Linked DNA regions of Homo sapiens. The protein of the gene in region 2 purifies or fractionates together with the protein of the main gene of each other region. This does not show direct contact. Each region holds a gene or a part of one and is shown on either strand. Other genes may lie near its edges.

Evidence for each region. The genes of interacting proteins can lie anywhere in the genome.
Region 1: the proteins of ZBTB43 (region 2) and SPINDOC purify together in Homo sapiens (affinity purification with mass spectrometry; one large-scale study listed by BioGRID and IntAct). This does not show direct contact.

The regions. Positions count from the first base shown.
Region 1 is NC_000011.10:63,811,953-63,816,752, reverse strand, and holds the start of SPINDOC (spindlin interactor and repressor of chromatin-binding protein), read right to left. Parts: upstream 3,298-4,800; 5' UTR 3,067-3,297; coding exon 2,940-3,066; intron 1-2,939. UniProt on the Homo sapiens protein: Chromatin protein that stabilizes SPIN1 and enhances its association with histone H3 trimethylated at both 'Lys-4' and 'Lys-9' (H3K4me3K9me3).
Region 2 is NC_000009.12:126,808,040-126,811,539, reverse strand, and holds part of ZBTB43 (zinc finger and BTB domain-containing protein 43), read right to left. Parts: intron 3,444-3,500; exon of another isoform or gene 3,348-3,443; intron 2,748-3,347; 5' UTR 2,625-2,747; intron 1-2,624. UniProt on the Homo sapiens protein: May be involved in transcriptional regulation.

The DNA.
Region 1 (4,800 bases), on a different chromosome or scaffold from region 2:
GGCATCACCCTTTCCAGTTCAGCAAAGAAGGCAGCCTTAGACCTGCATCAGCCTGGAAGCTCAGTGCTTTTACGAAGTGCCCATGATCCTTCACGGCTGCATCTCCCTCCTACCTTCCAGAGAGGATGGGACAAAATTAAAACACAGGAGGCCCTAATACCTGGGGGCTGCATGGAAGAGGTGGTATGAGAAATAGGAGCCTCGGCTTGCATGGATACAAGAGGTGGTGTCTGAAAGAGATACGAGATATGTCTTGTACCTATCTCTCATGCGACCATGGGCAGAAATGACCTCTCAGTTGCAATCAGCTTTCTTCCCTACTAGTCTTCCAAAACAGCTCTCATCCAAGTCAGCAGTGCTAAACTCTGCGGTCAGTTTCTCAACTTCATCCTCTGCCGATCACCTCTTCCATCTTGATTTTCATCACTTGCGTCTAGGGCATGACCTTCTGTTGGTTCTTCTTTTGCTTCCCTGGCCCTCTTTCTCAGTTATGTGTGCTAGTTCTTCCTCATCTCTTCTCAATATTCCCTCCCTTCCTCTGGCTTGTTGCTGAAGACCATCTCCCCTCACTAGAGCACCCCATTCCCCTTATGCATCACCTCCAACACAGCACACATCACCACCTGGCACTTGTTTTTGGGATGTTCACTGCCTGTCTCCTTACCACACCATAGCATCCATGACCACGGCCAGGTGCGGTGGCTCACGCCTGAATCCTAGCACTTTGGGAGGCCGAGGTGGGCGGATCACCTGAGGTTGAGAGTTCAAGACCAACCCCACCAACATGGGGAAACCCTATCTCTATTAAAAATACAAAATTAGCTGGGCGTGGTGGCACATGCCTATAATCCCAGTTACTCGGGAGGTTGAGGCAGAAGAATCACTTGAACCCGGGAGGCGAAGGTTGCAGTGAGCCGAGATTGTGCCATTGCACTACAGCTTGGGCAAAAAGAGCAAAACTCCGTCTCAAAAAAAAAAAAAAAATCCATGACCATACAGATTTCTGATGTTTTGCATCTGTATCTCCAGCATCTGTATCTGTATCTCCTCGCATGCAGTGGCATTTAGTAATGTGTGATGAGGGACTGACTCGGTCTCCAACCTGCCATCACTGGAGTTTCCCAGGACTCAGTCCTTAGACACTTCTCTACTTCCTTCTCTTCCCACTGTCTGCCTGCTGGCAATTTCTGTTTACGCCACTAGCTAGATACTTCCAGGAAATCTAGGCCCATGTATCTGACTGCTTAGTTGACCTCTCCACCTGAATATGTCATAAATAGGCATCTCAAACGTAATCATATTCAAACTTTCACTCCCAGTCTCCCAAGAGCACCGCAGCCTTCCCCATCTCGGAAAATGGGAAGGCTCTTCCTCCAGTTGCTCAGGCCAAAAACCTTGAATTCAATCTTTCTTCCTCTCTCCACCGAAATCTTTCCAGAAGCTTGTGCTGCCGGACCTTTGCACTTGCTATTCGGCCTGAAATGCTCTTCCTGCAGATATCTGCAAGGTTGGCATCCTCACTTCCTTCGGGTCTGTGCTCAAAATTCACCTTATTAGAAAACCCTTTCTGAACCACTCGATATATTCAATTAAATACCCATTCCTCCTCTTTCTCCTTTTCCTGCTTTAGTGATCTCTGAACCATTTATTGCCACCCAACATACTATACATGAACCTATTTCTCTGTCTTTAGCCATTGGTATATATATGTTCTTCAAGAGCAGGGTTTCGGTTGCTCTGTTTACTACTACTTCCCAGCCTAAAAACACTAGCCTAAACAGCCTAAAGTAGACGTCCAGTGAATATTGGTTGAATGAATTCACCTGTCTATTCCTGCCCTAACAGTGGGGATAAGGCCACCCTTGCAGGGTTGAGAGGATTAACTGAGACAGCCTCTGACAATGCCCAATGAACACTCAACAAATATTAGCAGAAGTAGGAAAACAACCTATCTTTTGGACTAAATGCTCCGAGAAGGGAGGTGACCTTTATTTCCCTCATGAATTTTATAACCCTTCCAGTTCCAAAAAGGATGACAGGCAGTGCAGGCAGACATCATTCTGTTCGGCTGAAGTTCAATGAATGGCATTGCTGCTCTCAACCTCTTTTGGGTACTATCCCGCCTAAGAAAAGCGGGGTGGGAGAATGGAAATATATTTGCATTTTCATGCATATTAAGTCTCCCACAAAGATGGCTCTTTGTTTTCTTACGGTTTGCAAGCTCCTGAGGACTAGAAATCGGTGAAGGGGGAGGGGAGAGCGAGTGTTCTGAGATTGTTCCTCCCATCCCCTCCCAAAGCTAATCTCGTTCTAGCACTGCACTGCTTTTCCAAACTAGCTGTTGTATGCAGTCCCATTCATCCCTTCTCTCCAGAACTTGACACCTGTGGCTCCTGCAAGTGGAAGGCCCGGGAATGGGAATGAAGCGGGGTGGTGGGCAGGGAAGCGTTATGCTCGGAGAGCCCTTAAAATTCTCCTGGAGGTCGGCAGCGGCGCCCGCCTGTAGCCTCCGGCCTAGAGGCTTCGCCGCCCCTCGGACTAGAACACAGCCCGGCCGTTGTGCTTGCCTCCCCTTCCCAGGCTGTGAGACGGCGGCCGCAACCACCCAGCGCCTCTGGGGATCCGGCCTCTGGTGCTGGGCCCGGGAGAGGGGGCGCTTGGGCACCGGAAGATCCGGAGCGTGCGGGGCGTGGATCGAAGTCTCCAGACCCTGGGCGGGGGAAAGGGGAAGGGAGGGGGAAATCGAGGAGGCCTGAGCTTCTAAACCATGGTGGGGGAGGTGCAAGAGCGCGCCCTGGACCCAGATCCGAGAGGGAAACCTGGGCCCCAAGGCTGAAGGGGGTGAGAAGGTGCCCGGGTCCCGGACCCCGACTGGGGAGGGACGGCCCCAGCCCCGGCCCCGCACCGTGACGCGGAAGTGGAATCCCCTCCATCCTCACCTCTGAGCATCGGCTCGGGCCGCGGAATTACGGCCACCACCATGGCCTCCTCCTCGTCCTCCCCTTCCTCGCATTTCAGCGTCACCTCGAAGCAGTCGAGTGCGGCGCCCTCGGCCTTTAGGGCCATGGTGCGGCCGTGGGCGATAGCAGTGGCCGGAGGACTGGCGCGCAGGCTTCGGCGCGCAGCCGGCAACCGCCTCCCGCCTCCTGGCCGGAATAGCGCCGGGCCCGCCGCCCGCCCCGCGCAGCCCCCTCCCCGCCGCCCGCCCGCCGCTCGCCGGCCGGGCCTGCGACCGGCGCGTCCGGGCCTCCCCGAGACCTCGGCGCGTCGGGAGCCCGGGCGGGGAGGGCTCAATCCGGGGCCCCTGCCCCCCGCCGCTCCCTTTTATGGAGGCTCATTGTCGGCGCCCGCCCGGCCGGCCAGCCGCGGACCCGCCCCCGATGCCGCGCGGCCAATCGCGCGTGGCCCCGCCCCGGGCACGCGGCCCCGTTAGAAACCCTGGACCCGGGAGGCGGCGGGAAGGGCCGAGGGGACCCGGGGCCACCCGGTGCGCAGAGGCAGAGGGGCCCCCAAAACCCGCAACGCGGGCCCCTCAGTCTGCGGGCCAAGCCCGGGGTTTCCCTCCATTAAGAAGTCAGTTGGGCGTTTCTGCTGGCGTGGAGAGCGCTACCAGGTGCCCCCGGATTTTGATCGGGAGTCGCTTTTGCCTTTCCGTGGACAAGCCTTCCTCCGCCAGCAGATGCCCCGGGCAGGAAGAGAAGCGGTGGGTGAGTGGAAAGGGCCTTGGTATGGAAACGCAGAGACCGAATTCCTTCTCATCTGCCAGCTCCGTGGCCGTGGGCACATTATCTGTTTTCTTAGTCCGGCTCATCGTTTCTTTCAAAAACCATTTTGGACCCTTCTGGGAAGGCAAAGAAGAGAAGCAGAGTGGACTGTGAGCGGACATAAACCACCCTGATGGGTATGATTTCCATTTTTGGCACGGGAGTCCGGAGATTTTGTGACCCTCTCCAAGGACACACAGCAATCCCTTGAGAGCCCCAAGACCAGAGTCCAGTTGCCATGACATTGCTGCCCTATAACCACACTCTGGGTGAGCTTTTACTTCTGTGACATGGAATGTGCATCTCCCTCTTCTATAGCAACCCTCATGAGATTTCAGCTCAGAAAATGCAAAATGTCTGACACTGAAAATCCATCTTCGAATGTCGTTATATCAGACCAGACACAGTAGTATTCAGAATCGCGTAGTAGGATGGGGGTGTGAGAAGAGGTGTGAACTAGTCTATATGGATTGCAGTCAATTTTTTAATTTTTTTTTTTTTGAGACAGAGTCTCGCTCTGTCACCAGGCTGGAGTGCAGTGGCGCTATCTCGGCTCACCACAACCTCCGCCTCCCAGGTTCAAGCTATTCTCCCGCCTCAGCCTCCTGGGTAGCTGGGACTACAGGCACGTGCCACCATGCCCGGCTAATTTTTGTATTTTTAGTAGAGACGGGGTTTCAGCATGTTGGCCAGGATGGTCTTGATCTCTTGACCTCATCATCCGTCTGCCTCGGCCTCCCAAAGTGGGATTACAGGCGTGAGCCACCGCGCCTGGCCTTGCAGTCTATTTTTAAGGGAATTATTTTGTTATGTGCAAGTGTATCTGATATTTTAAAGGTTTTACAACAAAGGTATTACCAAGCCTGTTTAACTATTTCTGCTGAATGGTCATTCTCTACCATTTGCTACAGATCCCTTCCGTGCCCCTCTGCTCTGCTCTGTATTGCAGTGGGCTGAGTCTTGCGGGGGGCAGTTTCTCAGGCTCCCAGAGCATCTGGCTTCAGGCCTCGGTTTAGCCAATGGGAGGCAGTGGCAG
Region 2 (3,500 bases):
ATAGGAAATAACAGCAACTACTATTTATGACATACATATACAAATATATAAACTGCTTAATACAGACATTGTACAAAGTCTATGCAAAGCACTTTATATGCTCTGTCTCACTTAATCTTCACAGCAACCCACTCAATAGGTATTTTTTACTTCCATTGTACAGAATTGGAGATAGACAAAAAAGCTAAGCAACTTAAGGTCATATAACTGGTAAGCAGTAAAATTGAGATTTAAATCCAAAGTACTTGTTCAGGCCCACTATAGCTTAAGAGGTGGAAAGAAAAGGTGAATATAATTTTTTCTTCTTTTTTTTTTTTTTTTTGAGATGGAGTCTCTGTCGCCCAGGCTGGAGGGCAGTGGTGCCACTTCAGCTCACTGTAACCTCCGCCTCCCAGGTTCAAGCGATTCTCCTGCCTCAGCCTCCTGAGTAGCTGAGACCACAGGTGCGTGACACCACGCCCAGCTAATTTTTGTGTTTTTAGTAGAGATGGGGTTTCACCATGTTGGCCAGGTTGGTCTCGAACTCCTGACCCTCATGTGATCTGCCCACCTTGGCCTCCCAAAGTGCTGGGATTACAGGCATGAGCCATCGTGCCTGGCTGTGAATATCACTATAGTTTCAGAGTATGGAAAGTAAACGTGAATATCATTTTCACAAATAATCTATATAATTTTATTATATACAATGCATTCACAAACTTTCGCACGCTGACCATCCTTAGACTTAAGATGGCCCAAGCCAGGCATGGTGGCTCACTCCTGTAATCCCAGTACTTTGGGAGGCCGAGGCGGGCGGATCACCAGGTCAAAAGATGGAGACCATCCTGGCCAACATGGTGAAACCCCTTCTCTACTAAAAGTACAAAAAAAAATTAGCTGTGCATGGTGGCCCATGCCTGTAGTCCCAGCTACCTGGGAGGCTGAGGCAGGAGAATCACTTGAACCCGGGAGGCAGAGGTCGCAGTGAGCCAAGATCTCGCCACGCGCTCCAGCCTGTGTGACAGAGCGAGACCCCATCTCAAAAAAAAAAAAAAAAAAAAAAAAGACGGCTGGGCACAGTGGCTCATGCCTGTAATCCCAGCACTTTGGGAGCACGAGACGGTGGATCACCTGTGGTCAGGAGTTTGAGACTGGCCTGGCCAAGAAGGCGAAACCCTGTCTCTACTAAAAATACAAAATTAGCTGGGCATGCTGACAGATGCCTGTAATCCCAGCTACTCAGGAGGCTGAGGAAGGAAAATCTCTTGAACCTGGGAGGCAGAGGTTGCAGTGAGCGGAGATTCTGCCACTGCACTCCAGCCTGGGCAACAAGAGCGAGACTCCATCTCAAAAACAAACAAACAAACAAATAAACAAACAAATGAACAAACAAACAAAAACCTTAATAAGATACCAGCAGTTAGTGGGCCGGGCGCGGTGGCTCACGTCTGTAATCCCAGCACTTTGGGAGGCTGAGGCCCGTGGATCACAAGGTCAGGAGTTCAAGACCAGTCTGGCCAAGATGGTGAAACCCCATCTCTACTAAAAATACAAAAAAATTAGCCGGGTGTGGTGGCCGGCACCTGTAATCCCAGCTACTCTGAAGGCTGAGGCAGAGAACTGCTTGAGCCTGGGAGGTGGAGCTTGCAGTGAGCTGAGATCCTGCCACTGCACTCTAGCCTGGGCGACAAAGCGAGACTCTGTCTCAAAAAAAAAAAGATACCAGCAGTTTTATGCCACTTTGCACATGTATTTTATTTTTTTAATCCAATAGCAACAGTTCTAAAACAAACACACCGATGCCAGCCTGTTCCACTATGCTTCTTAAAAGCTATTTGGCTTTTTTTAACGCAGATGAAGGGCAACATACTGAAGAAATCCTGAACTAGATGACCTTCAAGATTCCTTCCAACTTTGATGAGTTTAATAACAGCCACTATTTATTATTCGGCTGAGGAACTCCAAGTCAAATTTTATACGTGATTTAAACACCTATTAAACATCCTAAAAACACAGATGACAGCAATATAATAGGGAAGCAGACCCACCAGCTACTTATTGTGAAGTCCTTCAGAGGTTTCTTTAATCAGAGCATATGGTAACTTGCATGCTTACTATAGAAAGCATATTTAAACATAGTAAATGTTGCTTCAGTAAATTTAAAGCCTGGCACAAATGTACAAAAACACCAATACCCTATGCCTACTCTTTACATTAGTGAAATGCTTTAGAGTTCACAAAGCACACTATGTAAACCTGCGTTGTGCAACACTCCCGTATCATTGCATCCTTTTGAAATATGAGTAAACTGAAGCTCAAATTAAAAGACCTGCCAGTGGTTACACGTCTCAGAAATGGCATGTCAGCATTCAAACAGCAGTATAACTCCAAATCTAACATTTTTCTAAGTTAAGAAAAAAAATTCACTTGGCAGAAAAATTTATCTGACATTAAATGTTCTATCAGTGCAAAGTATGGCATTGATGGGCCTTAGAAGGTGTAACATCTCTTCAGAAGAGAAGAAAGAATCTTCTGGTCTAGAGGAATTAAAAATCTTAACAAAATACATTATTATTTTTGCTAAAAGAGAAATGATTACAGTAAGTAACTTTAAAAATGGTATCGTGATCAAGTTGATAGCTTACCTAATGCAAAGCTGTATTCCTGGGATAGAGTTCCTTATGCCATGGCCATCAAAAAGCAACATGAATAGAATGAGGAAGAAGAACCCATTTCAGTTTTGCTTCAAATTAAAATCACATTGACTTCTGGAAGGAAGAGTAACAGTGAAAATGTAAAAGAGATGCTATGTACACGTGTATTTGCTAATAAACACTAGAGATGTACATTAGCGGCAGAAAGAAAAGTAATCAAGACTGGCATTTTTGGTTATATTAAATTCCATTCTGCAACTTCATAGCTCCTGCTTTTGTATTTTTTAAAAAAACAAACTTATTTTGTAATAATTTTAAATTTTCAAAAAAACTGAAAAGATAGTGCATAACTCCCATATACCTCTCATCCATTACTGTGGCATATTCATTAAAACTAGAAAACATGGTCAATGACTATGTAATTTTGCAGAATTAATATATCCTTTGGAACAGTGCTATTGGTCTCCTGACCATTGTCAATCAGTATTCTTCCATTTTTTTCCTAATTAGAACACTTTGGCCAAATCACTTAGTAAAAACTATTTTAAGATGTTTTTTAAAAAAACAAGCCACCTGCTTTATGAAGTTTGATTCATGATTCCCTTCAATTTTAAGCCACGGCTGAATGTTTTACTTAAAAACTTCTAGGACAAACATTCTATTACAGCAAACTCTCTGAGATTCAAAAGAGAAGGTAACGTTCTAGAAACTAACCCCCCATTTATCGATCATCCTTCCATTGAATTTCAATAAAGCCAAGGAAATGTTTTTAACTGTACCCTCACGTGCATTAGAATTCAGGATAAGAAGCTGAAATCAAGAAAGCAGAAGGCAGAAACAGTACTCATTTCAAGAAATTAACAACAT